4 linked regions of the Homo sapiens genome follow. The protein of the gene in region 3 interacts with the protein of the main gene of each other region in a pairwise test. Each region holds a gene or a part of one and is shown on either strand. Other genes may lie near its edges. The genes, in order: TRAF3IP3, SLC35F6, CBARP and ABHD16A.

Region 1 (7,020 bases), on a different chromosome or scaffold from region 3:
ACAACCTCACCGGCCTGTGTGACATCTCACCCTACCTTGAAGATGGCTTGAGCAGAGAAAGAAAGATGATGGGAGAGTATGGAACAAAACTGAGAAGTTGCAGTGATGTAAAAAAGATTTCCTAAGCTCAGCCCTGCTCCTCACGTCAGACATTGTACCTGGATTTCTCAATCTGTGGTCAGAGCTCCTGATTGTTAGGTCATTTTCATTGACAGAGCAGGAACTTGGGGCAGACAGCTGTGCACGTGAGGTGGTTTCTGGTCCTGAACTAAATTGAGATCATCTCACTCATTTGTTTGACAGTCATTTGATAAGTTCCAACTCTGTGCTGGGCCTTGTGCTACAGGGGCAAAGAGCATTACAGTCCTAACTCTTGAGGAGCTCACAGTCCAGCCATGAAGACAGAGACATGTAATAAATAACACCAAAACAGTATAATAAGGCTATAGCAGCAGTGCATAAAGCATGATGCAGGAAAAAGAGAAAGAAGGCAGCAATTATTCCACCTGAGGTGGAACAGGGAAGGCTTTAAAGGAAGGAAACCTGGCCAGGCACGGCAGCTCATGCCTATAATCCCAGCACTTTGGGAGGCCAAGGCAGGTGGACCACTTGAGGCCAGGAGTTCAAGACCAGCCTGGCCAACATGGCGAAAACCCGTCTCTACTAAAGATACAAAAATTAGCTGAGCGTAATCGTGCATGCCTGAAGTCCGAGCTACTCAGGAGGCTGAGACACAAGAATTGCTTGAACCCAGGAGGTGGAGGTTGCAGTGAGCTGAGATTGTGCCACTGCACTCCAGCCTGGGTGACGGAGCAAGATTCTGTCTCAAAAAATAAAAATAAAGGAAAGAAACCATTTTAGCTGAATCTTGAAGGATGAGTAGGAGCTAACCAGTAGAGAAGCAAGAGTGATGATGAGGGAAAAAAGCAGAAAGTAGAAGAGTGTTTAAGGTAAAGGAATTGGAATGATTACAGGCCTATGTATGGCAAAGAATTGGGTATAGCAGAGTATGGCTGAAATGAAGGTATGCCAGAGTAGTACCAAAGAAAGGATCTCAGACAGGTCTTTAGAATTATGGGTCTTAAACTTTTTCTGTTGAACAAGGTATCTCAAACTTGAATAATGCATGGACCCATTTTTAAAGGAAACCCATATATGTATATATATAAAATCAGAGATCCTTTAGAATGCATGCTACCCAGCTTGAGAAACACTGCTATAGGTAATAAGCTGAGTAAGAATGGAACTATGCTTTATTGAGGTATAAAGTCCTACACTTAGCAATGTCTGGCTCATCCTTAGAAGGTATGCAATTACTATCTGAGGAAATGACTTGTGAATGATCAGATCTGTGTCTTAAAAAGTTCTGTAATTTCCAACTGGATGCAGTGTCTCACACCTGTAATCCCAACACTTTGGGGGGCCAAGGCAGAAGGATCACTTGAGTGATCAAGACCAGCCTGGGCAACATAGTGAGACCTCATCTCTATTAAAAATAAAAAAATTAGCCATGCATGGTGGTACACACCTATAGTCACAGCTACTTGGGAGGCTGAGGCAGGAGGATCGCTTGAGCCCAGGAGGTCCAGGCTGCACCACTGTACTCCTGCATGGGGTAACAGAGCAAGACCCTGTCTTGAAAAAAAAAAAAGAGGGGGGAGGGTTCAAGGATTATCTAACTTGTAGCAATAAGAACCCTGGCTCCAAGCAGGGGTTGGGGGAGTTGAGACTCTTGTAATATCCCAGGTAAGACACAACCAGAGCTTGAATCAAAGCAAGCTTTGTGGGAATGAGGGGGGATATATTAAGAGACATTTCTGGGTTTGTCTCCAAGGAGGAGTTTCACCCCATGCTCCAGCCCAAGAGCAGAAGTTCCCTTGGTTGTGGTTTCCTCCCTCCCTTCTTCTCACCCCTCCCAATCCTCACCCTTCTCTTCTTTGTCCCTCCTCCCCACCAACCCCCTAGCTTCCAGTTTTAAAGAAAAACAGTCTCAGACTTTTTCAGTTAACAGCTATTGTTTCCCCTAAAATAAGGTAATTCAACTCTCTATCTCTTCCATGAAAGCCTCAACTCCAATAAAAGTATAGCCCCAAACTGTGGTATCTGGGAAAAATAATTGGAAGAAAGTGGCCAGAACTGGTTCAGACCTTTATTTTTGCCATTTGACCTTCATAAATTTGAATTTCCAACTTCACATGCTGAGAACTTACCACAAACTCCCTATTAGAATCCCAAGGATCAGCTCCCTCCGCTGGCTTCACCTCCGGATGTCTCTGGGCCTTTTGGATACCATAGGCTCTGGGGCACTATTGAGACTCCTGAGGAGGGTCCAACCTTCAGGGCAGAAACAGCTCTACTAGCAGAGAAAGCAAGCTTTCAATATTGTGCAATACAAAAACGAGAGCAGGGCAGCCTTGGGTTTGAAGATCTGCGTCCTGGAATTAAGATCTTGAGATGACAGCGCAGCGGGGATTGGCTGAAGCCCTAAGCAACCTCTACTAGAGCAGAGAGATGAGCTGTGGGCTGGTGCTTCTGTGGTGAGGTGGTGGTGTTTCTGGAGAGCAGATCAGAGGCAGGGGAAAACCACGCAGAAGCAGGAGCTGAAGACCTCAGACCGGCACCAGGTGTGTATGGCCTCCGCCTTGCTCCTCTCTTCACTGGGGTTTATATGCCCTCTGAGCCCTCGGCTCCCGGGGTCTAACTGCCTAGAATGTCAGCAGTAGGCCTGTAAAAAGTGCTTCTTCCCACATACTGTAACACTGGGCTTCAGTGTGGGGGACCCTGGGGCTCAGACCAGGAAACTACATGCCCGATTTGCAACAACTTGGCTGCGACTTTTATGACGTTTTGGGGAGTCCAGAAAAGCAGAGCTGTGGAAAGAGGTTTCATTCAAGCTCCAGACTTGGGTGGCCCTTCATCCCCACTGAAGTGGCTATGGTAAATTGTCTTCCGTTGCAACACGAATGGAAAAGTAATTTGGGGTTGGGCCAATACAAAAACAGTTGAAAGAGGCAAAATATTGGATTAAAGCCATACTATGGAATGGGGAGAGAGGAGGTACCCCAAAAGGGTAGGAGACTGGGAAAATTTTAAGAATATTGCCTTAGGCCTGCTATATTCCCAAAATACAGCAAGATAAACCTTAAATTTGGTAGGTTTGATTGCATTCTGCATAGAAAGAGTTTGGGCAAAGGCAAATGTGTGGAACCGAAGATGTGAACCAGAGGAGGTAGGTGTAGAGCCAGTTGATTTCAGGACCTGTGGATTGACAATGAACAGGCCACAGTGGAATGCAGCCGTTTTACCAGTTACTTCAAAGCTCAAACAGTAGAAGTCTTTGTCCACGTCTTCCATCGGTCCCAAAGCCCTCTGCTTATTGTAGATGCCAAATCCCTGACTCTCTGCTCTCCCTCACATGAGACGTTAGGAAAAACATTAATAGCAGGAGGCACTTTAAAAAATTATTTTTGGCAACACTTTTTGCTTTTGCAAGCCCCAGCTGAGTAACACAGGAAGCTGAAAGGGTGGGGGCACCCCCTGGCTCCCATGGTTAGAAGAATAAGCCAAACAAGATCAAAACAGGAGCTGCGAGATACCACTTCCTGCCTCTCCCAGGCACCCTGAAACTCACTGAGGGAGGCGGACCTCAAAGCCGAGCCCCCTCCTCTACCCCCAGACCATTACAAACCGGAAATGTTATAAGAGATGGAAATGTCCAGGCCATCTGGCTGAGAGAGCCCATGGCGTCTCGGGCCTAAAGAGAGGTGGAATTTCAAGACCTCACAAGCGTCCCACTTGGCCTGGTTGGAAAAAGCCAGAGAAAAGATAGGAAAACCGGTCACTGCCCTTTCTCTGGAAAACTTGCTCTCATTGATGGCTCCTCCGCCCCCTCCCCTACACAGATACACCCTACACAAAACTCCAGGCTGGAAGAACAAAACCCCTACCTGGGCAAAAGGGGCAAGTCTACAAAGGGAGGGGACAAAAAAGTGGCAGGGAAGCTGTAGCTACTAAGCTGAAATACTGAAAAACCGAGAAACAGATTGGCTCTTCATGCCGGCCTTGCTCCCCTCTCGCCCTTGAGATTAGCATCTTTCTTGGAATGTCGAAAATACCATTAGACAGCCCCAGCTTATGAATAAATAGAATGTGACTTTCTGGGAAGCTCCCTTACACCCCCTGCCGCCCTCACTCTGCTTTAATATCTCTCCGTTTCTTGCTTTCTTAAAGAAGTTCTCATCTTGAGTCTAGTATGTACGTGTGCATGTGGAAATGTATGTATGCAGGTGGAGGTGTGTGTGTGGAGATGGAAGTGTGTATGTCCAGATGGAATTGTGCGTGTGCATGTGGAGGTGTGTGTGTGCAGGTGGAGGTGTGTGTGTGCATGTGGAGGTGTGTGTGTGCAGGTGGAGGTATGTGTGTGCATGTGGAGGTGTGTGTGTGCATGTGGAAGTGTGCGTGTGCATGTGAAAGTATGTGTGTGCAGGTGGAAGTGTGCGTGTGCAGGTGGAGGTGTGTGTGTCCAGGTAGAATGTGTGTGCATGTGGAGGTGTATCTGTGCATGTGGAGGTGTGTGTGCAGCTGGAAGTTGTGTGCAGGTGGAGGTGCACATGTGCATGTGAAGGTGTGTGTGTGCATATGGAGGTGTGTGTGTGCATGTGGAGGTGTGTGTGTGCAGGTGGAGGTGTGCGTGTGCAGGTGGAGGTGTGCGTGTGCAGGTGGAGGTGTGCGTGTGCCTATGGAGGTGTGTGTGTGTGCATATGGAGGTGTGTGTGTGCAGGTGGAGGTGTGTGTCTATATAGAAGTGTGTGTGTGCATGTGAAAGTGTGTGTGTGCCATGTGGAGGTGTGCGTGTGCAGGTGAAGGTGTGCGTGTGCAGGTGAAGGTGTGCGTGTGCAGGTGGAGGTGTGCGTGTGCATGTGGAGGGGTGCGTGTGCATGTGGAGGTGTGTGTGTGCAGGTGGAGGTGTGCGTGTGCATGTGGATGTGTGTGTGTGCTCAGGTGGAAGTGTGCGTGTGCATGTGGAGGTGTGTGTGCAGGTGGAGGTGTGTGTGTGCAGGTGGAAGTGTGCATGCATGTGGAAGTGTGCGTGTGCATATGGATGTGTGTGCATGTGAAGGTTGTGTGCATGTGGAGGTGTGCGTGCGCATGTGGAGGTGTGCGTGTTCATGTGAAGGTGTGTGTGTGCATGTGAAGGTATGTGTGTGCAGGTGGAGGTGTGTGTCCCTACGGAGGTGTGCATCTGCATGTGAAGGTGTGCGTGTGCATGTGAAGGTGTGTGTGTGCATGTGGAGGTGTATCTGTGCATGTGGAGGTGTGCGTGTGCAGCTGGAGGTGTGTGTGCAGGTGGAAGTGTGCATGTGCATGTGAAGGTATGCATGTGCAGGTGGAGGTGTGTGCATGTGGAGGTGTGTGTGCATGTGAAGGTGTGCGTGTGCATATGGAGGTGTGCGTGTGCATGTGAAGGTGTGTGTGAAGGTGTGTGTGTGCAGGTGGAGGTACGTGTATGCAGGTGGAGGTGTATGTGTGCAGTGGAAGTGTACGTGTGCATGTGGAGGTGTGTGTGCGCATGTGGTGTGCGTGTGCATATGGAGGTGTGCGTGTGCATGTGAAGGTGTGCATGTGAAGGTGTGTGTTCAGGTGGAGGTACGTGTGTGCAGGTGGAGGTGTATGTGTGCAGGTGGAAGTGTACGTGTGCATGTGGAGGTGTGTGCGCGCATGTGAAGGTGTGTGTGTATATGGAGGTGTGCGTGTGCATATGCAGGTGTGCGTGTGCATGTGAAGGTGTGTGTGTGCAGGTGGAGGTACGTGTGTGCAGGTGGAAGTGTACGTGTGCATGTGGAGGTGTGTGCGCGCATGTGAAGGTGTGTGTGTATATGGAGGTGTGCGTGTGCATATGCAGGTGTGCGTGTGCATGTGAAGGTGTGTGTGTGCAGGTGGAGGTACGTGTGTGCAGGTGGAAGTGTATGTGTGCAGGTGGAAGTGTACGTGTGCATGTGGAGGTGTGTGTGCACATGTGAAGGTGTGTGTATATGGAGGTGTGTGTGTGCATGTGGAGGTGTGTGTGGCAGGGAGGGGAGTGTATTAATCTCCTAGGGCTGCTATGACAAAGTACCACAGTCAGGGGAACTTCAAAAACAAACTTATTTTCTCATAGTTCTGGAGGCTAAAAGTCTGAGATCGAGGTGTCAGCAGAGTTCGTTTCTCCTGCGGTCTCTCTTCCTGGCTTACAGATTGCCATCTCTCTCTGTGTCTCCACATGGCCTTCCTGCAGTGCCCTGATCTCCTCTTTTAATAAGGACATCCATCATATTGGATTAGGGCCAGCTTAATGGCCTCATTTTAACTTAACTACATCTTTAAAGACCCTTTCTCCAAATATGGTCACATTCTGGGGCACTCGGGGCTTAGGACTTCAACATAGAAATGTTGAGGAGATATAAATGAGCTCATAACCGAGGGCAAGGGAGGGAATAAACATTCTCCCGGGAGGGGAGACTGCGTTAGCCTCACTGGCCTACATTTTACAGGGAAAAGTCCACGTACAAGACTGAGAAGAGGTGAGGAGTGCAGAAGTGCCTAGACAGGGGAGGGAGATAGTGAGCGAAAGGGTAGCTTAGAAGCTTTCCTTCCGGGGCCCCCCTGCTATGCTACCCTGAGCCATTTGATAAAAATCGAGGTAAAAAGAGGACTTGAGGCCAGTCTTATTCTTTCTTGTCCTAGTCCAGAGAAACAGGAGAAGATCCTCTTCTATCCAGCATCCTTTGTCATCTTTGCTCCTGCCTGCCTCCTGAAAGAGTTCACTGTTTGAGCACCAACCATGTGCTGGGCAGTAGAATAGGAATATAGAGTCAAACTCTTTGCAGACTAGATTTTGCCCCAAGCTCATTAACTCATCCCATTTGCTCCAGGGACAGCTTAATGAAGACAAACTGAAGGGGAAACTGAGATCCTTAGAAAACCAGCTATACACCTGTACCCAGGTAAGCATTCTGAAGGATACTTCCATCTCAGGAATCT
Region 2 (7,884 bases), on a different chromosome or scaffold from region 3:
CTCTGGGCTGGCTGAGAGGCTGGCAGCCCAGTCCTGGAGAGAGGCACATCAAAGGCTGGGAGCGCAGATGCCACTTACAGGTTTACAACTTCCACAAGCACAGGCTTCTCTGTCCTGGCCTGGGGAGCTGTGAGAGGAAACTCCCAGGAAGGAGGGACTCTGGGGTATCACAGTCATAAAAGAACAGGACTTAAAGTCCTGAGGCCTGGGTTCCAGCCTTCATTCAGACACCAAACAGTTGAATCACAGAAAGAAACTTCTCCTGAGGCCTCCTTTGTAAATTGTGGGGATTAGACTGGATGATTTCTATGCTTTTAACAACTCTAAATGACCCCAAAATGACTGGAGAAGTCCCCAGCCACACCCTCCAGTGGTGGTTAAGAGCATGGATGCTAGAGCCAGACCATGCTGGCTCAACTATAAACTCTGCCACTTAGTAGCTAAGTTGAACTTGGGCAAGGAATTTAATCATTTCCTACCTCAGTTTCCTTATACAGGAATATCAGCCCCTGTCTTTGCCTGATAGGGTGGTTATGAGAATTCCCTGAGTTCACACATGAAAGGGCAGAGCAGGGCCTGGGGCATGCGAGGTGCTCTTTGTGCATGAGATGCTTCTGCTAGTTGTCAGCACATGCTTGTCTGTCTGTGCCTGCTGGAAATCGTGGGTCAAAAATGTGATTTCCTTTTATTTTTTTTTTTGAGACCGAGTCTCACTCTGTCACCCAGGTTGGAGGGCAGTGGTGCAATCTTGGCTCATTGCAACCTCCGCCTCCCGGGTTCAAGCAATTCTCCTGTCTCAGCCTCCCAAGTAGCTGGGACTACAGGTGCGCACTACCACGCCCAGCTAATTTTTGTATTTTTAGTAGAGATGCAGTTTCACCATATTGGTCAGGCTGGTTTCAAACTCCTGACCTCAAGTGATCCAGCCGCTTCTGCCTCCCAAAGTGCTGGGATGACAGGCGTAAGCCACCGCGCCGGGCCAGAAATGTGATTTCAAATCCATACTTCACATCGGGGTGCATGCAGCTGCTCCCACATGTTCTTTCTCCCTAAGAGTATCCCTTCTTGTGGTTTGACCTTAGAACACTGTTTAGGGTCCAATTTGGGGGCCCATCTTGGGGTGGGAGGATCCTGAGAGGCCCCACACCAGCTGTCAGGCAGGGGACAGGACCAAAAGTTGGGTCTGTCACCTGGGAGCCTCTTTCCTGACTCTCAGGCAGCCTTTAAAGGCGACGCCTTCTGGGATTGAGGATCTCTAAGCTTCCTACCTGACTGGTTTGGAGTTTTCTAAGGAAGGAGGTGAATCAGCACAGTTTACCCCAGCAGTAACTGGCAATCTGGATTCTCCTTGTGGGCAGCAGCCCTGGTGGACTTACAACCGCTCTCTAAGCACTTGACAGAGGCCCTGGCTGGCATGACAGAACAGAAGACTTGCTTTGCTGTGTTCAGATCCTGAGATGGGAGCCCTCAGGCTGGGGCCTCTGAACAGCTAAGGATTCAGCATGAGGAGTGATCCTCAGGAGGATGCAGGGCCTGGGAAGCTAGTAGTTCTCCACAAGGCACAGTTGGCCAGAGGTGAACCAGAGGAACAGGTGGGGCCCACCCAGGACTCCACTGACTGTGCCCACCGTTTGGGGAAGGGAGAACACTGTGACTGTCGTGTGCGTACACGTCTGTCTCCTCCACCTCAGATTCCAAGCATCTCAAAGGCAGAGATCGCCTCTTGGTCACTTCTGTCCCCTTCCCTTACACACCGTAGGTACCTTATACATGGGATCGTGCCATTGCACTCCAGCCTGGGCAACAAGAAAAGGAGGGGCAGGAAGGCCCTGCCCTGAGATGGAGACAGAGAGAGACAAAGAAATGCCATCCTGCCCACAACAGAGGGGAGGCTAGGCCCTGTCCCTCAGTCTCATGACTGCCTGGGTCCTTAGTCCCTAACCTCCTGGGAACTGTCCCCCCTCTCACCCCCATACATCAGAGCTGAACTGGCCACTTGCCCTCTCTGTCTGAGTTAATGGCACTTTTCTTCTCCCAGGCAGAAACCCTGGAGTGATCCTTGTTTCTTGCTCATGTGGGTCAGGCCTGTGGCCATTCACACCTGGTCTCTGCCACCAGTTGTCCCTTCCTTTCTCTTCTCACTGCCACCTCCTAGTTCCCCTCATCTGCTATGCAGCAGCCTTGGAGTGGTTTTTCCTGCACCAAACCACTCCTCATGTCATTGAGTCAATCATATCACTTTCAACATGTCATTCCCCAGCTCAAAAGCACTTTTCTGATTATGAGAGAAAATCTAACCTGGGCATTTGATGCTGGTTACAATCGACTTTGATCTGGCCTTTCCGTAGACTTTCCTTGACTTACAGTCTCAGACACATTCCGAAATCCCACCTAAGCTTCAAAGCACAGCTCTAACCCCTCATCCTTGAGGGGCCGTGGGGCACCTCCCTGTCTGCCGCTTGAGGCCTCCACGCTCACTGGGTCACTCGGCCTGCACAGCCACTACTGCGGCTCATGTGCACAAGTCCAGGGGTCTCTCCCAGCTCGTGGAGGGAGGTGCTCAGGCTTGGACGCCAGCACTGGAAGGGCCGTGGAAAGGAATCGGCCAACCCTCCTGTTAAAAGACGTGGAAACAGGAGCGGAGGCTGTACAGCAAATCAAAGCCGGGGCTCGGATCCCCCCGTCCGGGGCGCAGCCCCGCTCCGCATTTCCCCGGGCCTCGCATCCCTTGGGTGGTCATAACGCGCGCGAACTGACCGGAGCAAGTGGGAAAGCAGGGGAAGCCAGGAGGGCAGGGCCAAGAAGGGGGAAGGCGTAGAACGAGCGCCGGGGTCGCCAGGGCCCGCACGCCCGGCAGGGCCCAGACTCACTTTGCCGAGAGCGTGTTGATGGAGCCGGTAACAAGCATGAGCCCGGCCAGGAACAGCTGGTACTTGGTCCAGGCCATGTCGGCGGACGCTGGGGTTCGCTCCAGTTAGCGGCGCCGGGCCCCGTCACCCGGGGTCTCCTGCGCGAGCGCTTCCGGGCCGGGCGTCACGTGACCCCTCCTGCTCGCCCCGCCCCCGGGGAGCGCGCCTGAGCCACGGTGCCCGCGCTCTGCCGAGTCGTCCTGGAGCGCTTTGGTGGCCACGCCGTGGCCCTGGCAAATCACGGCCCAGGCCTTCCAGTTTTTTTTTTCTTTTCTTCCTCACTCTCCCCCGCCTTTTTGGGTTTCTTTTTTCTATTTTTTTGAGAAGGAGTCTCACTCTGTCGCCCAGGCTGGAGTGCAATGGCATGATCTCGGCTCACTGCAATATCCGCCTCCTGGGTTCAAGCGATTCTCCTGCTTCAGCCTCCCGAGTAGCTCGGATTACAGGCGCCCTTCACCACGCCCGGCTAATTTTTTGTATTTTTAGTAGAGACAGGGCTTCACCATGTTGGCCAGGCTGGTCTCGAACTCCCGACCTCAGGTGATCCGCCCTCCTCCGCATCCCAAAGTATTGGGATTACAGGCGTGAACCACCGCGCCTGGCCTTGGTTTCTTATTTTTATCTTTGGGTCTTCCTATTTGTAAAAGGGGCGGATGGGACAGTGCAGTGAGGGTGCATCGTGGCTATTACAGCATTTTGTGAATCGTTTTGAGAGGTTGAGCTGGGCGGTGTCAGAAAGGAGCCCTGAAGTGGGCCTGCCGGGAGTTCCTTGGGGACCCTGTAGAGAGGAGATTCCCACGCTGGACGTTTCCACTTCGGGGCTCCTATCTGATACCGCCCACCTTGGGCACAGTTCATATCTTTCAGCAAAGTGGCGAAGGCATCTAGCTCCAGTTGCCGAGGACACCATTTTATAGCTGAGGACAGTAAATTCAGCGAAGCAGAGTGATTTGCTTAAGAACCTGCTGGTGAGCAGTGGGGTAGGGATTTGCGCTTGGGTTCTCCAGTCTCCAAAAATCCGTGCCTTCCGCATGGCCTCTGCACCAAGCCCTGCTTCACTGCTCCTTTGTGGACTTTCTGGTCGCAGCTGAGGCATCCAGGCAGAAAGACCATCCCTAGGTTTGTTTGAAGAGGGTGTTGACGAAGAGTCACACTCTAAAATATTTGAAGGGATTTATTCTGAGCCAAATATTTGTGACCATGGCCCGTGACACAGCCCTCAGGAGGTCCTGAGAACATGTGCCCAAAGTGGTCGGGGCGCAGCATTTTAGAAAGACACGAGACATCAATCAAATACATTTAAGAAATACATTGGTTTGGTCCAGAAAGGTAGGACAACTCAAAGCCGGGAGGAGGGGAGAGGGTGGGGCAGGAAACGGGAAAAATATCTATCTATGTTAATAGAGATTTTTGTTTTTTTTTGAGACGGAGTCTTGCTCTGTCGCCCAGGCTGGAGTGCAGTGGTGCGATCTCGGCTCACTGCAACCTCCACCTCCCGGATTCAATCAGTTCTCTGCCTCAGCCTCCCAAGTAGCTGGGACTACAGGTGCCTGCCACCACGCCTGGCTAAATTTTGTATTTCTAGTAGAGATGGGGGGGGTCTCACCATGTTGGCCAGGCTGGTCTTGAACTCCTGATCCACCTGCCTCGGCCTCCCAAAGTGCTGGGATTACAGGCGTGATCCGCCACGCCCGGCCGGTAATAGAGATTCTTTACAGATGCAAATTTTCCCCCACAAAAGACAGATTTGCAGGGCCATTTCAAGATATGGCAAAGAAAAATGTTTTGGGGTAAAATCTTTTGACTTTCTTCTTAGTCACATAATATTATGCCAGAGTCAGATTGGAAAGTAAGTCATGATATATAGGGTTAAATAAAACCCATCTGATGAGAATTTATGGTTTGTAGGGCATGACTCTCCAGACCTCTTAGGTAGGAATTTGGGCAAGGTAAAAAAAATCAGAGCTTAGTCCTCAAGGGGTTCTGGTGTTTAAAATCCTACTCTTGGCTGGGTGTGGTGGTTCACACCTATAATCCTAGCACTTTGGGAGGCTGAAGCGGGCTGATTGCTTGAGCTCAGGATTTCCAGACAAGCCTGGGCAACATGGCAAAACTCAGTCTCTACTAAAAATGCAAAAATTAGCTGAGTGTCATGACAAGTACCCATAATCCCAGCTACTCAGGAGGCTAAGTAGGAGGATCGCTTGAGTCCCTGGAGGTGGAGGTTGCAATGAACTGAGATCATGCCACTATACTCCGGCCTGGGTGGCAAAGTGACACCCTGTCTTAAAAAAAGAAAAAAAAAAGGCCAGGCGCGGTGGCTCGCACCTGTAATCCCAGCACTTTGGGAGGCTGAGGCAGGTGGATCACCTGAGGTCGGAATTCAAGATCAGCCTGACCAACATGGTGAAACCCCATCTCTACTAAAATACAAAAAATTAGCCAGGTGTGGGGGTGCATGCTTGTAATCTCAGCTACTCCGGAGGCTGAGGCAGGAGAATCGCTTGAACCTGGGAGATGGAAGTTGCAGTGAGCCAAGATCGAGCCATTGCACTCCAGCCTGGGCAACAAGCGCGAAAACTCCATCTCAAAAAAAAAAAAAAAAAGAAAGAAAAAGAAAAGAAAAAACTGCTCCTAATATGCCTTTCCCAGTGCTCTAGTCTGCACCCATGCCCTGTCACGCCAGCGACAAGATCCTTTTGTTACCAGAAAGGGGTTCTGATCCAGACCTCAAGAGAGGGTTCTTGGACCTGGCACCTTGCGGGGAATCCATAAAGTGAAAACAAGTTTATTAAGAAAGTAAAGGATAAAGAATGGCTACTCCATTGGCAGAGCAGCCCCGAGGGCTGCTGATTGGTTATTTTTATGGATATTTCTGGATTATATGCCAAACAAGGGGTGGATTATTCATGAGTTTTCTGGGAAAGGGGTGGGCAATTGCCAGAACTAAGTGTTCCTCCCCTTTTTAGACCATGTAGGTTAACTTCCAGTTGCTACCATGGCATCTGTAAACTGTCGCGCGCTGGTGCGAGTGTCTTTTAGCATGCTAATGCATTATAAATAGTGTATAACAAGCAGTGAGAAAAACCAGAGGTCACTTTTGTCGCCATCTTGGTTTTGGTGGGTTTTGGCCGGCTTCTTTACTGCATCCTGTTTTATCAGCAAGGTCTTTGTGACCTGTACCTTGTGCCCACTTCCTATCTCGACCTGTGACTTAGAATGCCTAACCTCCTGGGAATGCAGCCCAGTAGGTCTCAGCCTCGTTTTACCCAGCCCCTGTTCAAGATGGAGTTGCTCTGATTTAAATGTCTCTGACACTTTGGAAAACGACTTCAGACCGAGCCAACACACTTCCCCTATGCTGCAGATCTTGTTTCTGTGGTGAGAAAAGAACTTTTACCTGAGGAATGCGAGTCCTGTAAGTTATCAGGCCCAGAGAGACATTAAAATAAGACAGCAATCACGTCCTACTCCCACTTTGAGTTATGTATTTATGTCTTGAAACTGCTTGCTATTGCCACAGGTAGCTATAACCTAACAATGCTGCACTGGACACCATATCTTACATCCTATAGCACTGTACAGCCAATCACTAATCAATGTTATTTCTGTAAACCAATGAGAATTTCTGACAAACAACTTTGTATCAGCCCACTCCCTGTCCTCCTTTTTCTGCCTTTAAAAACCTGTTTGTAACAAAGAGAGAAGGGAGCTCACATCCAAGATTACTTGCGTCTGAGTCTTTTGGGCAGCTGTCCTCATTTTGGCTCAAGTAAACTGTTTAACTTATATTTTGTGCCTTGGCACCTTCTTGTTTTTTTTAAGATGAAGTGGTGCTCTGTCGTCCAGTCTGGAGTGCAGTGGCACATTCTTGGCTCACTACAACTTCTGCCTCCCAGGTTCAAGCAATTCCCCTGCCTCAGCCTCCCGAGTAGCTGGGATTACAGGTGAGCACCACCATGCCCAGCTACATTTTTTGTATTTATAGTCGAGATGGGGTTTCACCGTGTTGGCCAGGCTGGTCTTGAACTCCTGACCTCAAGTGATCCACCCACCTTGGCCTCCCAAAGTGTTGGGATTACAGGTGTAAGCCACCACGCCCAGATGGCTAGCAACTTCATTTTAGATGAACAGGAGGTGGCCCGTGTGGTGGCTCACACCTGTTATCCTAGCACTTTGGGAGGCTGAGGCCTCCTAATCCCAGGAATTTGAGAGCAGCTTGGGCAACATAGCCAGACCCTCATCTCTACAAAAACACTTAAAAATTAGTCAGGGGTGGTAGTGCGGGCCTGTGAGCCCAGTTACTGGAGAAGCTGAGGCAGGAGGATTGCTTGAGCACAGGACTTTGAGGCTGCAGTAAACCGTGGTCATGCCCCTGCACTTCAGCCTGGGCAACAGAGCAAGACCCTATCTCACACACACACAAATTTTTTAAATTAAACAAATAGATCAACAAGAGGTACAGAGATAGGACCTGTCTGCCAACTCCTCCTACTTGCCCTAAGACAGCCTCGAACTTGTGAAAAAGGCCAGAGTGGACGCAGAACTCTCAAGGGGCTGCACCAGACTCCCTTATTGCAGGAAGACCTGCTGGAGAAGGTGTATAAGTGGGATCCTGGAAAAAACATAGGAGGTCCCCAGATAGACAGCAGAAGGGCTTTCTTGCAGATGGACATGGCATGTACAGCGGTGCAGAGGTGTGAGTGTGGAACAAGCCTGGGACCCACAGAATGTTCTAGAATTTTCTTTAATTGGAGCCTCTTCTCCTTTCAGTCAGTGCGGAGTTGGAAGACCCAGAAGAGGTTTCTTCTGAACTTTTTTTTTTTTGAGATGGAGTCTTGCTCTGTTGCCCAGGCTTCTCCTGCCTCACCCTCCCAAGTAGCTGGGAGTACAGGCGTACACCACCACACCCAGCTAATTTTTGTATTTTTAGTAGAGACAGGGTTTTACTGTGTTGGCCAGGCTGGTCTCAAAC
Region 3 (7,020 bases):
AAGCCGCGCGGCCGCTTTGGTTTTTTGTTTGGTTGGTTCCATTTTCTTTTTTTCTTTTTTTTTTTAAGAAAAAATAAAAGGTGGATTTGAGCTGTGGCTGTGAGGGGTGTTTGGGAGCTGCTGGGTGGCAGGGGGGCTGTGGGGTCGGGCTCACGTCGCGGCCGCCTTTGCGCTCTCGGGTCACCCTGCTTTGGCGGCCCGGCCGGAGGGCAGGACCCTCACCTCTCCCCCAAGGCCACTGCGCTCTTGGGACCCCAGAGAAAACCCGGAGCAAGCAGGAGTGTGCGGTCAATATTTATATCATCCAGAAAAGAAAAACACGAGAAACGCCATCGCGGGATGGTGCAGACGCGGCGGGGACTCGGAGGGTGCCGTGCGGGCGAGGCCGCCCAAATTTGGCAATAAATAAAGCTTGGGAAGCTTGGACCTGGCCGTCTGGGTTTTGTTCGCGTCTCAACGTGGATGGGGCGGCAGCGGGGCGGGCGCCGTTGACATGCGGAGGGCAGTGGGGACTCGGGGCGCGGGAGGGCCGGGGCCGGCTCCCTCAGGGCCGGCGGCAGCAGCGGTGGCGGCGCGGTTATTGCTCGGAGGCGGCGCGGGCTGCCGCCAGCACACGCCGCAGTGAGGTAAACGGTCTCGGAGGTCGGCAGTCACGGTGTTGAGCCGCCTCCCGGCCCAGGGCGGCGAACTCGTCTGCGACCGTTAGCGCCCCGCGGCCCCCGCCCGGGCGAGCTCGCGCACGCGCCCGGCACGCGGCGGCTCCATCGGGCCCAGTGGGCTGCGCGACCCTCGGGTGGCGGGCCCTGCGACTAAGCGGCCGCCCCGTCCGGGACTGAGGGCGAGTGATCGTTGTCCTCAGGAGCCCGAAGCTGAGAGCCGTTCACGCCCCTTCCTTCCCGCCCAGCCGGGGTCTCCGCGGCCCGCGCCTCACGACGCCCAGCACCCGGCAAGCACCGGAAAGAGCAGTGCACACTTCGGCGGCGCGAGGGCGGCCGGGGCTCTGCGCCTGCGCCCTGAAGCGGCGAGCGCGCCTCCGTCGCCCGGCGCGTGCGCGAAGGGCCCGCGGTCCCCGCGCATTCGCGTCGGGGCGTCGCGCCCCCACGTCTCTCCCGCCGCCGAGGCCCCGTGCGGCGCCGGAGAAGCTGCCAGAGAGATGGGCCCAGGACGCGGGACTTAGGCCGGGCTGTGGTCGGGGGACGTGGGGGCGGCGGCGACCAACGCGGGAGTCGCCACGACGGGCTCGGCGAGGCGCGGCGGAAAGAGTCTCTCGTCGAGGCCAGCCGCCAGCTTGTCCAGCACCGACCCGGATGGTAGGACGCACAGGCCCGAGCCGGGGCACCCCCCGCCGCCCGGCTCCTCCTCGATGACGGGGATGGCGGGGTCGTCGCCGGCGCCGCCCAGGGTGCGACCGTCGGGCGGGCCGTCCACGCTGTCGCCGCGCCGCAAGGGCGCACGCGCGGGTCGGGCCGCGCCGGCAGGCGGTGCCGGGGTTCCGGCCAGGGCCGGGGCCGCGCGGGCGCCGGGGTCGCTGTGCTGCCGGCCACGCTGCCACTGTTTGCGGGCGTGCGGGTGCGCGCGGGCGCGGTGTCGCGCGGCAGCCGGCGTGTCGTCGAAGTGCGGGTCGTGGCGCAGGAACTCGTGGAACAGCGCGTCCGTCTTCTCGTCGATGCTGTAGTCGCGGCGCGGGCGGCGGGGCCAGGCGCGCGGGCTGCGGGGCCGGGCGGGCGCGGCAGGTGGCTCGGTGTCGTCGCCTGCGCCGCGGCCCTCGATGCTGGCGTAGCCACTGTCCATCTGCAGCAGCCGGCGCGCCTCGCCGTCCTTGGGCCGCGGCGCGGGCGGGGAGGGCGGCGGGAAGGCGGGCGCCGCGCCCCCGGAGCCTGAGCCCGAGCTGTCGCCGCTGCGCACCGAGTCGCGGTCGTTGCCGCTGCTGCTGTGGTCCGAGGCGGCCGCATGCAGCTCAAGCGAGGCGCGCAGGCTCCACAGGTCGCGGTAGCTGGTCTGGGCCTGCTCGGGGCCCGCGTCCCGCTCGGCGTCCGGCTCCAGTGGCGGCTGCTGCTGCTCAGGCCCCGCGCTGCCCGCGCCGCGCTCCGGGGGGGAATCGGGGCTCGCTCCTCCCGCTGCCTCGGCCGCCTCTAGCCTGCAAGCCAGGCCGCGCCGTCAGAGCCCCGCCGAGCCCCGCGCCCCCTACCCGGCCGGCCATCCCGCCTCTGGATCAGGGAGGGTGGACGCGGGTGGGACTTGGGACTCGGGCGGGCCTTGGAAGGTGAGAGCTTTAAAATGAGCCAGTGTGTTTTGCAGGGGATGCGTCTTGCATTGACCCTGAGCTGTGGCGCCTGCTTATTAAGCAGGGTGCCTCCATGCTGGACTGCAGACGGCGGGGCCCCCTCCCTTGGAAGCCCCCAGGAAAAGTCAACATGCTTCTCTCCGGGAGTCACGTTTTCCCAGCCTCCCAGTGGACGTGGGAGCCGCAGGGGATGGACTGGACGCGGTTGAGTCCAGCTCAGCCCCTGCTCCAGGCTAGGGCTCTCTGCCCACCCATGCTGGATAACCAGCAGGAGGACAGTGCACAGACGTGAGGGTCACCCGCCATACCAGGGCTGCCCCAGGAACCCTGCTCTGCCCCAGCCCCACGCCCCATTCCCATCCCACCGACGTGGGCCCTGGGCTTCAGGGAAGTTGCCCTTGGGTTGGGGGAGGGGTGCTGCTGGCCGGAGTGGTCACAGCAGCTTCTGAGAGGAGTCTGCCCAGCCTTGGGAGCATGGGCGGGGCGGGGGTGGGAGAGGGCCTGGGACCACAGCAGAACCCTTCAGGCCTCGGACTCCACCAGCAAGCAGCAGTACCAGCGCCATCCTCGGGGGGCCCCTCCTCCCCACCCACCGCCCTACCCTTACCCAGTCTCTCCCTGCTTCCCTCCTCTGGTCCATGCTGGAGAGGTGGCCCCAGTGAGTCCGCCTCTGGGAGGGGCCTTGCCGCTGGAGGCAGGCGAGCGCGTGTCCACGGGGCCTGGAGAGCGCTCCCTGGGCCGCCTAGGGGGGGGCGAAGGGGGGCAAGGGCCCACAGGTCCACCCCTAGCACCTCCATCTACTGAAAAATACCTGCCGAGAGCAGGGGGCGGGCTGGCCAGAAAGGGGCGGGGGTGCGGGAAGGCCACGGCGTCGCCCGCCCGGGCAATGTACTGGATGAAGTCCTCCTGGGGGGCATCCCCCTCCTCCTGCTCCGTGCTCTCACTGGCTGCCCGCTGCCGCTGGAAGTGGTGCCGCTTGGGGGAACCTGCGCACGGGATGTGCCGTAAGCGTCAGCCGGCATGTGCCTCCACCCGCTCCACACACACACAGAATGCCTATGCCCCCCCGCCACACACACACAATGCCTGTGCCCCCCCGCCACACACAACGCCTGTGGACCCCCACCACACACACACAACGTGTGCCCCCCACACATACAACGCCTGGGCCCCCCCCACACACAGAACGCCTGTGGCCCCCATACACACACATAGAACGCCTGTGCCCCCCACCACAGAACGCCTGTGGCCCCCTCACACACACACGCCTGTGCCCCCCCCACAGAACGCCTGTGCACCCCCCATGCCTGTGCCCCCCCCACAGAATGCCTGTACCCTCCTACACACAGAACACCTGTGGCCCCCACACACACACAACGCGTGTGCCCTGTCTCTGTCTCACACACACAGGAGTGGGCCCTGGCTTGGGCCAGACCCTGGCTGGCATCTCCCCGGGTCAGGTGGGTGCGGACAGTGGCTGTGTGTACACCCTGGAGTACAGGTGAGAAAACTGAGGCACGGAGGGAAGAGGTGCTGGGACCAGAGAGCCTGAGCAGGGCAGGGCCAGGAAGCGAGTGAGTGGAAGGGCCTCTGGCACCGATAGTGCCTTGTGGCAGCCCTGGTCAACATGTGGCCACTCATAAGGGCGTGTCCTGGACACCTGGTGGCCTGCACAGCCTGGCTGAAACTACGGAAGGCATGAGAGAGTCACATACAGGCTGGTGGGGGCCAACGAGGAGAGGGAGAGAGGTGCCCTCTCCTGCCAGCTCCACCCTGGTCTGGAGAGCGCTGGGGGACTGCCCCACCCCTGCCTCGGCCCCCTTCTCCCAACAGCCTCCCCAGCAAAGCTTGAGTGGGCAGGCCCCAGCAAACAGGTTCTGGGATGTGCTGCAACCACATTGGACTCTAAATGTCTCTAGTCACCCCTGGGCCCCATTCATTTCAAGATCTGGATTCTCTCAGCTGGAGCGGGGCAGCCAGAGGAGGCCTTCCCCTCCCTGGCCCCTAGCTACCTTGGGGGTGGGGGCTGGGAGAACTCACCCCACCCCCGCTGGCTGGAGCCACAACACAGGGTCTCCCACTGTCTGATGATGTGTCCTCTGTCATGCTGACAGCACCTTCTCTCTGCACTTGTCCCCTATCCTGGCCTCACCTGACGACAGGACCTGCCACCCTGTCCACAAGGCAGAGCGGGCCCCAGCCCCTCTGGGCTGCCCTGGCCCTGCTGAGCTGGCTGAGCAGGGCTGGTGCCTGCTGCCAGTGCTACAGATGGGACACCTCTGCTCCCCACACAAACTCCTGCCTCGAGCCCAGATAAGGCAGCCCTGTCTCCAGGATCCTGCCTGACCCAAGGCCTGCAGAATTGAAGGGCTACTGTCAAACAGTCCAGGGATCTATGTGCTACAGCCCAGAGGGCAAAAGCACCCCCTGCCCCGGAGCTTCGGTAAGTTTTACTGGCACACAGCCACGTGCATTCGTCATGCAGCGCCTCTGACTGCTTCCTCGCCTCAACAGCAGCAGAGTTGTGGAGACACAGCCTCTCTGACCATAACCCCACGAACACCACCATCCGGGGCCTGATGGGAAAAGTCTGCTGACCCCTGGCCCAGTCCAACACTTACTTCGTGTTAGAGGAAGTCAGAGCCCAGACAGGCAGAGGGCCTCGGCCAAGGTCACACAGCAGCTGATGGTCTGCCAGCGGGCGAGGGAGGGGCCCCGGGGGAACCCGCCTTCCACTCACATTCCCAGGGATGAGAGCCGAGCATGGCTGGGAGGGGATGCAGGCCACAGGCCCCACCCTCTGCGCTCCACAGTGACCAGGTGGCCCCCGACACCCTCCTTTACCACCTCATCCTGGATGCCCCAATGGCCCGAGAGCAGTCGGGGCGCGCAAAGCCTTCCCGCACAGGTTCCCGGAGCTGGGTGGGTCTGGCTCAGGCCGCCCGCACACTCAGCCCTCCCAGCCACCTGCAGAACCTCAGGCAGCACGCCCGCTGGCAGACTGGGCAGGACTCAGCCCCAGAGCACCGGCTCCCCACCCAGCCCACAACCTCCTGCTCCTGGATGTCCAGGGCAGCCCCTGGCAGCCAGCACCCAGCCCACAGGGGCCCACTCTCCACCAGGTGCTACAGCTCACCTCTCGTGTCCAGACTGGCTGCCCGCTGGCTGGGCTCCAGCTTCCACTTCTTGACCTTGAAATAGGGGCTGGCCCCATCCAGGCTGGCATGGCGGCGCAGGCGGGTGAGGAACTGCAGAACGGTACCTGCCCCGGATCCCGGGCCCGCCTCCCCAGGCCCTGCTGCAGCCCCGGGCCCTCCAGCCTTGGTGCTCCTGGTACCGGCATCCAACTGGCAGGGAACAGAGATGGCGCTCAGGCTAAGACTTCTTCCTGGGCCCGTGTGCTGGCCCCAGGTGGCCGTAGGTCTGAGAGACAGTCCCAAGGGCCCCCCATCACTGGGACAGAGAGGGGTACCTGCTCGGAGAGGGGCAGAAGCGGGAGGAGGGGCGCTCAGTGGCTGGGTGGGCTACACTAAGGTGCTCTGCCCTCTGGGGAAGGTCCCTGGATATGGGGTTTGGAGAGAAAAGGAGGTGCGTGTCTAGAAGGTCTCTCGCCCACGGCGTGGGCTGCAGGTGAGGGAGGGCAGGGGTGGCGCACCCTCTCCAGAACCTAGGGAATGTCAAATGAGGTGGGAGCCTGGGGTGCCCCCTGCATGTGTGAGGACACGCCTGTGTCCGGTGTGCGGCCGGCTCCCTCTTTCTCCCGTGTGCAATGACCCGGCGGGCCAAGGAGGGCTGCGGTGGCTGGCAGGTCATAGGTTGACCTTGGTCCTGGACTGGGGACAGGGAGGGGAAGGAGCCTCCCCGGCTGTGGACACCATGGGGGACACGCAGGGGCCCTCACCGAGGTGCCTTCCCCAGAGTCGCTAGATGCCGAGGGGCTGATCTCTGCGAAGTCAGTGGCGCCCGCGGCTGAGTTGTAGGGGTCACCTGGCAGGGCGGAGCTGGGGCCCACAGAGCGGCCGGTGAGGGCCTTCCCCGGGGGCTGTGGGACAGAGCCAGGTGGGGGAGGAAGCAGTGACAGGTCAAAGAGCATGGGTGGGTGAGGGACATGGGCAGGTGAGGAGCATGCTGGGCTTGGCCCCCTGCCCTGCTCCACCCCACCCCGCCCATCCCGAGATGAGGGCCACCCAGAAAAAGAGTGGGTGAGGGCGTGGGGGTCCGGGAGTCCCCGGGGCTGCCTCCCGTCCCCCGAGGAACCGGGGCTGCTGCCCATAGGCTCACCTGGAAGATGGCCAGAGTGGCCTTGGGAGAGGTGGCCGGGTGGGGCGTGGTGGCTGAGCTGGCCTCGCCTGAGTCACACTCGTGGATGGTGACAATCTTGAGGGGCGGCAGGTGCAGGTGCGTGAGCCGGGCATTCTTCAGGTGGTGGAAGTCCCCCTCCGTCAGTGTGTACCTGCGACAGCATCTGGCCATCAGAGCCCGCCCACCTCCCATGCCCGATGCCCCAGCTGCCGTGCTCTGCCATCCACCCTGCCGGCCTGGGCAGGGGCAGGCGAAAGGGGGGCAACTGGCCAAGGCCGCCCCACCCCACGGTCCCAGTCCAGGAGCCTCTGCCTTGGTCCCTGCAGCCTCCGCACCCAGCTCCTCCCCCGTCCCGGCGGCCAGGACCTCAGACAGGCCCTGGGGTGCCTCCCAACGCCGCCCCGCTTACCGGCGACCCTTGTCCTGCGTCTTGC
Region 4 (7,020 bases), on a different chromosome or scaffold from region 3:
CAGCCTGACCAACATGGTAAAACCCCGTCTCTACCAAAAATACAAAAATTAGCTGGGCATGGTGGCACGTGCCTGTAATCCCAGCTACTTAGGAGGCTGAGGCAGGAGAATAGCTTGAACCTGGGAGGCAAAGGTTGCAGTGAGACGAGATTGCGCTACTGCACTCCATCCTGGGCAACAGAGCAAGACTCCGTCTCAAAAAAAAAAAAAAGTTCCATGCAATAGCCATGCAAGAGAACACTATATAGCAATGCAAATGAACAAACTGTAGCTACGCTCAACAACGCAGATGAAGCCAGGTGCAGTGGCTCATGCCTGTAATCCTAGCAGTTTGGTAGGCTGAAGCAGGCAGATCACCAGAGGTCAGGAGTTCAAGACCAGTCTGTCCAACATGGTGAAACCCCGTCTCTACTAAACATACAAAAAAAAATTAGCCAGGTATGGTGGTGAGCACCTGTAATCCCAGCTATTCGGGAGGCTGAGGCAGTAGAATTGCTTGAATCCAAGAGGCAGAGGTTGCAGTGAGCCAAGATTGCGCTACTGTACTGCATCCTGGGCAACAGAGCAAGGCTCCATCTCAGAAAAAATAAAATACAAAAAATTAACTGGGCATGGTGGCACATGCCTATAGTCTTAACTGCTTGGGAGGCTAAGGCATGAGAACTGCTTGAACCTGGGAGGCAGAGGTTGCAGTGAGCCAAGATAGCACCACTGCACTCCAGTCTGGGTGACAGAGCGAGACTCTGTCTCCAGATAAACAAAAGCAATGCAGATGAATTTCTCAAATGTTGTGTTAAATAGAAGAAGCTAACCACAAAATAATGTATGCAGTATGTTTTCATTTATATAAAATTCAAAAGGGATGTGCATGTTTGAGGTAGAACACCGAAGACAACAAGGGCATGGTTTTCTTTTTTTTTTTTTTTTTTTTTGAGACGGAGTCTCGCTCTGTCCCCCAGGCTGGAGTGCAGTGGCGCGATCTCGGCTCACTGCAAGCTCCGCCTCCCGGGTTCACGCCATTCTCCTGCTTCAGCCTCCCGAGTAGCTGGGACTACAGGCGCCCACCACCACACCCGGCTAGGTTTTTTTGTATTTTTTAGTAGAGATGGGGTTTCACCGTGTTAGCCAGGATGGTCTCAATCTCCTGACCTCGTGATCCACCCGCCTCGGCCTCCCAAAGTGCTGAGATTACAGGCTTGAGCCACCGCGCCCAGCAAGGGCATGGTTTTCTCAAAAGTTAGGAGAGTGATTACCTGGGGTGGGGGAGAACAGAGTGGGGGAGAGCCCTGCTGAGAGGTGGCTGTGTTCTCTTTGTTGACCTAGGTGATAGTCACATGAATGTTTGCTTTGTATTTTTTAAACTGAATATATGTTTTATGTACATATGTTGTATCTCGCAATTTAAAAAAATAAAGAGGACAGATCACCTACCCCTAGTGGGTACATAAGATGACAACCAGGTGATGGGCGATGCTTCAACATGGGGGTGGTGGGGTCAGGGCTGGATGGTCGCAGTTGGGTCCAGGACCTTCTGCCTGAGGTGTTCTGCCCCCTGATCTCTGCAGGGCTGGGCTCTCTCCTCAGAGAGGCCTTCCCTGACCACCCTGTCTAAAAGTAGCTCCCACTGCTCAGTTTTGTCTTAGTTTTTTATTTTATTTATTTTTAATTTAGAAAAAATACAGAAAAAATTAGCTGTGCATGGTGGCGGGCGCTTGTAATCCCAGCTATTTGGGAGGCTGTGGCAGGAGAATCACTTGAACCCGGGAGGCGGAGGTTGCAGTGAGCCGAGAGCACATCATTGCACTCCCGCCTGGGCAACAAGAGCAAAACTGTCTCAAAAAAAAGAAAAAAGAAAAAATACAGAAAAGTCCAGAGAACAAAATATAAAAGCCTTTTTAAATTTTTTGATGTATAGTTTTGTGATTTTTTTTTTATATATAGTTTTGTGATATTTGCTTTAAATGCTTTCTGTCAACAAAATACTAAAGCACCACAGTTAGGGTTGGAGTTCCCATTGGAATCCTTTCAGTCCCATCTTCCTCTTTCCTCAGAAGTAATAATTGTCATTTGGTGTGGGTTTTTTTTTTTTCTGGCACATACTTTTATGAAACATATACCTCAGTTCCTCAAGTCTAAGCTGCCATCAATTGTAAAATGAATTCTAATTTCAGAGTTTTCAAGGGTTAAAAAATATACATTTTAGAATCTATGAAATATGGTATCTATAAGCAGTATGTATTATTTTGCACATTTTACATTTTTGGCATAAATGTTGTACAAATCATTCTGCAGCACACATCATTCTCTCATCATATCGTTTTGGGGGAATACCATTGATGACACATAAAGTTCTGGTTCATTCTTGTTGTATTTTCTCTGTAGCACTTATCCCTCTCTGAAATGTTGTTTATTGTCTTCTCCTGGCTGTACCTAACCCCAACCAGAATGCCAGCTCTCTGAGAGCCAGGAGCTGTGTATCTCATTTCCTGCTGAGTCTCCCGTGTGTAGTACGGTGCCTGTCTGACACACGACACCTGCCAAGTCAGTGAGGAGAGAAGTTAGGGTTTGAGGTGGCTCAGCAGTGAAAGGAGAGTGGATGCAATCACTGACTGTGTAAGTGAAAAGAGAGAGGAGAGAGAGTCAGCACTGAGAGTTGCTTCTGCTTCAGAAAGGAAAGCAGAAAGGAGGCAGGAGAGGAACTGTTCAGGAACTGGAAGGAGTCAAGGATGGGCCCAGGAAGCAGAGGCAGGAAGAATCTTGAGGGACAGGGAGAATGCTGAGTAGTACAGTTGAAGAGAATGAGGATAGAAGAGTCAGGAATTCAGTGAGGAAGTAATTATGGGCAGGAGTCGGAGACTCTGAAGCCAGATGGCAAGGGGCTAGAATATACAGAAAAGAGGCAGAAAGCAAACATTGGAGAAGAATGGCAGTGAAAAATAGAGAAATTTGATATTCGCAAGGGAGAATAGTATTATATGATAGTGTTTAATAGTGTCATTTAATAGGTTATATGACAGTGTTTAAAGACTGAGGAAGAGGAACATTCTGGAAGATGGTAGGTTAAGGATTGTCTATAAAGACACAAACTGCAGAAGCTAGGGAGAAGAAGCGTCCTGTAGCCAGTTGCTGGATTTGGAGGAAGGGGGTTGGCTCACATCTATTTCTCCGCATCCTATGCCCTCAGTTCCTTTTTCTTTCACTTTTTCTTACAGGGCCTTCTTCTAGCCCATCTCCAATTCTTTTCCTAAAACCTAGGCTTTCTGCTTCCCAGTTTTCCTAGCACTGTTTCCTGTCCTTTTTCTACCAGGCATTGGCCGCTGGACCAACCCCCAGTACCGGCAGTTCATCACCATCTTGGAAGCAACACATCGGAACCAGTCTTCAGAAAACAAGGTGAGAGGCCCTAGGAAAAGTGCCACACAGGCACCCAATAGCAGCTTTCTCAGTTGTCCCTCAGAGCACCAGACACTGGCTTCTGCAGGAAGAGGAGGTGTGTTTTACCACCCACCACACTGGGTGTTTGCTTGCACATTGCTGTATCCCTTCTCACCTCCATTAGTGAACTGTCCACCTGAGGAATTTTTCCTCCCTACCACTTCTAATGGAATATTCTGCTAGAACAATCTTCCCCCTCCCTCACCTGTAAGAACTGGCTAAACTAGAAACATTCCACAATGTTTCTTTTTTCTTTTTCTTTTTTTTTTTTTGAGATGGAGTTTCGCTCTTGTTGCCCAGGCTGGAGTGCAATGGCACGATCTCGGCTCACTGCACTCTCCACCTCCCAGGTTCAAGTGATTCTCCTGTCTCAGCTTCCTGAGTAGCTAGGATTACAGGCACGCACCACCCACACCCTCTAATTTTTGTATTTTTTGTAGAGACGGGGTTTCACCATGTTGGCTAGGCTGGTCTCCAACTCATGACCTCAGGCGATCTGCCTGCCCCAGCCTCCCAAAGTGCTGGGATTACAGGCGTGAGCCACCACTCCTGGCCTCTTTTTTTTTTTTTCTTCTTTGAGACAGAGTCTCACTCTTACTCAGGCTGGAGTATAGTGGTACAATCTCAGTTTACTACAACCTCCAACTCCCGGGTTCAAACAATGCTCATGCCTCAGCCTCCTGAGTAGCTGGAATTACAGGTGCACACCACCACGCCCAGTTAATTTTTTTTTTTTTTTTTTGAGACGGAGTCTCACTCTGTCGCCCAGGCTGGAGTGCAGTGGCGCCATCTCAGCTTACTGCAAGCTCGGCCTCCCGGGTTCATGCCATTGTCCTGCCTCAGCCCCCTGAGTAGCTGGGACTACAGGCGCCTGCCACCACGCCCGGCTAATTTTTTTATTTTTAGTAGAGACGGGGTTTCACCATGTTAGCCAGGATGGTCTTGATCTCCTGACCTTGTGATCCGCCTGCCTCGGCCTCCCAAAGTGCTGGGATTACAGGCGTGAGCCACCGTGCCTGGCCAATTTTTGTATTTTTAGCAGAGACAGGGTTTCATCATGTTGGCCAGGCTAGTCTTGAACTCCTGACTGCAGACGATCTGCCTGCCTTGGCCTTCCAAAGTGCTGGGATTATAGGTGTGAGCCACTGTGCCTGGCCCACAGTGTTTCTTTTTTTTTCTTTTGAGATGGAGTTTCGCTCTTGTTGCCCAGGCTGGCGTGCAATGGCATGATTCCAGCTCACTGCAACCTCCGCCTCCTGGGTTCAAGCGATTCTCCTGCCTCAGCCTCCCAAGTAGCTGGGATTACAGGCATGCGCCACCACGCCCAGCTAATATTGTATTTTTAGTAGAGATGGGGTTTAGCTGTGTTGGTCAGGCTGGTCTCAAACTCCTGACCTCAGGTGATCCACCTGCCTTGGCCTCCCAAAGTGCTGGGATTACAGGTGTGAGCCACTGCACCCAGCCCACAATGTTTCTTAGAAGGTAGTTTTCTCTGTATCACAGCAGCTCAGTTCTATAAATGTTTAATTTTGTTGTATGCATTGAATACCATGCTATCCTTGTTTGTGGATGGGACAAGGTGGACAGGTGTGTCCACTCCTATGCCTGGGAGTACAGCATGGTGCCAGGAGGGAGAAAAGCTAGGGCTCAGTGTCTTGGGAATTATGCCAAGCCGGCTGGTGCTGGACTGTGATTATCTTTGAGGATGGGCTTTGGGGCCCCATAGAGCTCTTTTCTGTTATGGGAGGTTTCTAGGATCAAACAGCTATGACCACCATCATCACATTCCTGGCTACTCCACACTATGGAGCTGCGTAATGATGCCCTGTACTATGCTACTGGCTGAAGCATTTGGCACACACCCTTTCTGATCCTCACAACAGCTGAGTGAGGTGGCATTATTACCTTTATTTGTAAATGTGAGAAAACAGAGGCAAAAAGAGGTTAAGTGACCCATTCGGAGTCATAGAGCAAGAAAGTGGCTAAGTCCAGATTTGAGAGCAGGTCTGAGCAAAGCCTGCCTGAAATTTGCTTTTAGTCATCTTGTTTTGTTTTGCCATTTACCTTTTTGTATAATTTTTCTATTGCTCTCTGTTAGTCAAATTATTTTTGAAATGTCAAAAAATTTCTGTGCAGAAAATAAAAACCCTCAAAATAGAGTGCTAGGAGCTCAGGGGGTGGGGGACGAATATAGTCAAGTATTAAGACACAGCTAGGCCGGGCGCGGTGGCTCACACCTGTAATCCCAGCACTTTGGAAGGCCGAGGCGGGTGGATCACGAGGTCAGGAGATCAAGACCATCCTGGCTAACATGGTGAAACCCCATCTCTGCTAAAGGTACAAAAATTAGCCGGGCATGGTGGTGGCAGGCACCTGTAGTCCCAGCTACTTGGAGGCTGAGGCGGGAGAATGGCGTGAAGCCGGGAGGCAGAGCTTGCAGTGATCCGAGATCGTGCCACTGCACTCCAGCCTGGGCGACAGAGTGAGACTCCATCTCAAAAAAAAAAAAAAAAAAAAAGACACAGCTCCCACTGCCGTCAAAAAACGTGGAGCTGGTGAGGTGGTTCATGCCTATAATCCCAGCACTTTCGGAAGCCAAGGCAGGAGGATCGCTTCAGCCCAGGAGTTGGAGACCAGCCTGGGCAACATAGTAAGACCTTGTCTCTAAAGAAAATTTTAAAAATTAGCTGGGCATGGTAGCACATGTCTGTAGTCCCAGCTACTCCAGAGGCTAAGGTAGGAGGATCACTTGGGCCTGGGAGTTTGAGGCTGCAGTGAGCTATGATTGCACCAACTGCATTCCAGCCTGGGCAACAGCACGAGACCCTGCCTCAAAAAAAAAAAAAAAGGCATGTGGACTGGCTCAGTGGGGTGGCCCGAGGTTCGGATGGGCTGTAGGGCAACACTGATCCATGGCTGCAGGAGTTGAGGAAGGGATGTAGTTGTGAGGATGGAAGTCAGAGCTTCCTTCAACGGGTGGCCCCACATGGCAGAGGAGCCCACTGTGGGCGTGACTTCCCTCCTCTCTGTCTCACTCAACCTTGGGTCTGTCAGTGTGATCTGCTGGGAGATTTCTAAGCTTCTAAGACAGCACCCTATAAGGGACCCAGGTGGGGAATAGACCGTGACCAGCCAGCGACCCCTACTACCCGTCACTCAAAAGCACTAGCACCTTCAGCCACTCCTCCTGGGGATGGGTCAGACTTAGTTTTTTAGAAAAGCAGAGTGTTAGGTTCTTAGCTTGGAAGAGGGCAGACAGGCCAGTCCTGATACCTGATGGGGCATACCATCTCCCCTGATTTTCTGGTCCTGTTAGAATTTTCCATCTGAGAATTGGGAGGGTATTGACCTCCGCTTGGTTTCCCCATGATGTGTGGGGATCAGACCCCTGGATAACGAAGGTGTTGTTGAGGGTGGGTAGGAGAGCCTCCCCTGAGTTCTCAGTACCCCTTTGCCTCTCGTGCCCACTGCAGAGGCAGCTTGCCAACTACAACTTTGACTTCCGGAGCTGGCCAGTCGACTTCCACTGGGAAGAACCCAGCAGCCGGTGAGGCCCCAGTTCTTTTGCTGTATCTCTCCCCTTAG

Evidence for each region.
Region 1: the proteins of CBARP (region 3) and TRAF3IP3 interact in binary tests that used the Homo sapiens proteins (3 or more experiments, as listed by UniProt).
Region 2: the proteins of CBARP (region 3) and SLC35F6 interact in binary tests that used the Homo sapiens proteins (3 or more experiments, as listed by UniProt).
Region 4: the proteins of CBARP (region 3) and ABHD16A interact in binary tests that used the Homo sapiens proteins (3 or more experiments, as listed by UniProt).

The regions. Positions count from the first base shown.
Region 1 is NC_000001.11:209,766,037-209,773,056, forward strand, and holds part of TRAF3IP3 (TRAF3-interacting JNK-activating modulator), read left to right. Parts: intron 1-2,528; exon of another isoform or gene 2,529-2,624; intron 2,625-6,911; coding exon 6,912-6,983; intron 6,984-7,020. UniProt on the Homo sapiens protein: Adapter protein that plays essential roles in both innate and adaptive immunity. Plays a crucial role in the regulation of thymocyte development.
Region 2 is NC_000002.12:26,759,413-26,767,296, reverse strand, and holds the start of SLC35F6 (solute carrier family 35 member F6 precursor), read right to left. Parts: upstream 3,014-7,884; 5' UTR 2,948-3,013; coding exon 2,871-2,947; intron 1-2,870. UniProt on the Homo sapiens protein: Involved in the maintenance of mitochondrial membrane potential in pancreatic ductal adenocarcinoma (PDAC) cells. Promotes pancreatic ductal adenocarcinoma (PDAC) cell growth. May play a role as a nucleotide-sugar transporter.
Region 3 is NC_000019.10:1,228,006-1,235,025, forward strand, and holds the end of CBARP (voltage-dependent calcium channel beta subunit-associated regulatory protein), read right to left. Parts: coding exon 6,996-7,020; intron 6,738-6,995; coding exon 6,566-6,737; intron 6,327-6,565; coding exon 6,186-6,326; intron 5,632-6,185; coding exon 5,421-5,631; intron 3,271-5,420; coding exon 3,096-3,270; coding exon of another isoform or gene 2,888-3,095; exon of another isoform or gene 2,138-2,887; coding exon 1,174-2,137; 3' UTR 282-1,173; downstream 1-281. UniProt on the Homo sapiens protein: Negatively regulates voltage-gated calcium channels by preventing the interaction between their alpha and beta subunits. Thereby, negatively regulates calcium channels activity at the plasma membrane and indirectly inhibits calcium-regulated exocytosis.
Region 4 is NC_000006.12:31,693,321-31,700,340, reverse strand, and holds part of ABHD16A (phosphatidylserine lipase ABHD16A), read left to right. Parts: intron 1-3,307; coding exon 3,308-3,393; intron 3,394-6,908; coding exon 6,909-6,982; intron 6,983-7,020. UniProt on the Homo sapiens protein: Phosphatidylserine (PS) lipase that mediates the hydrolysis of phosphatidylserine to generate lysophosphatidylserine (LPS). LPS constitutes a class of signaling lipids that regulates immunological and neurological processes.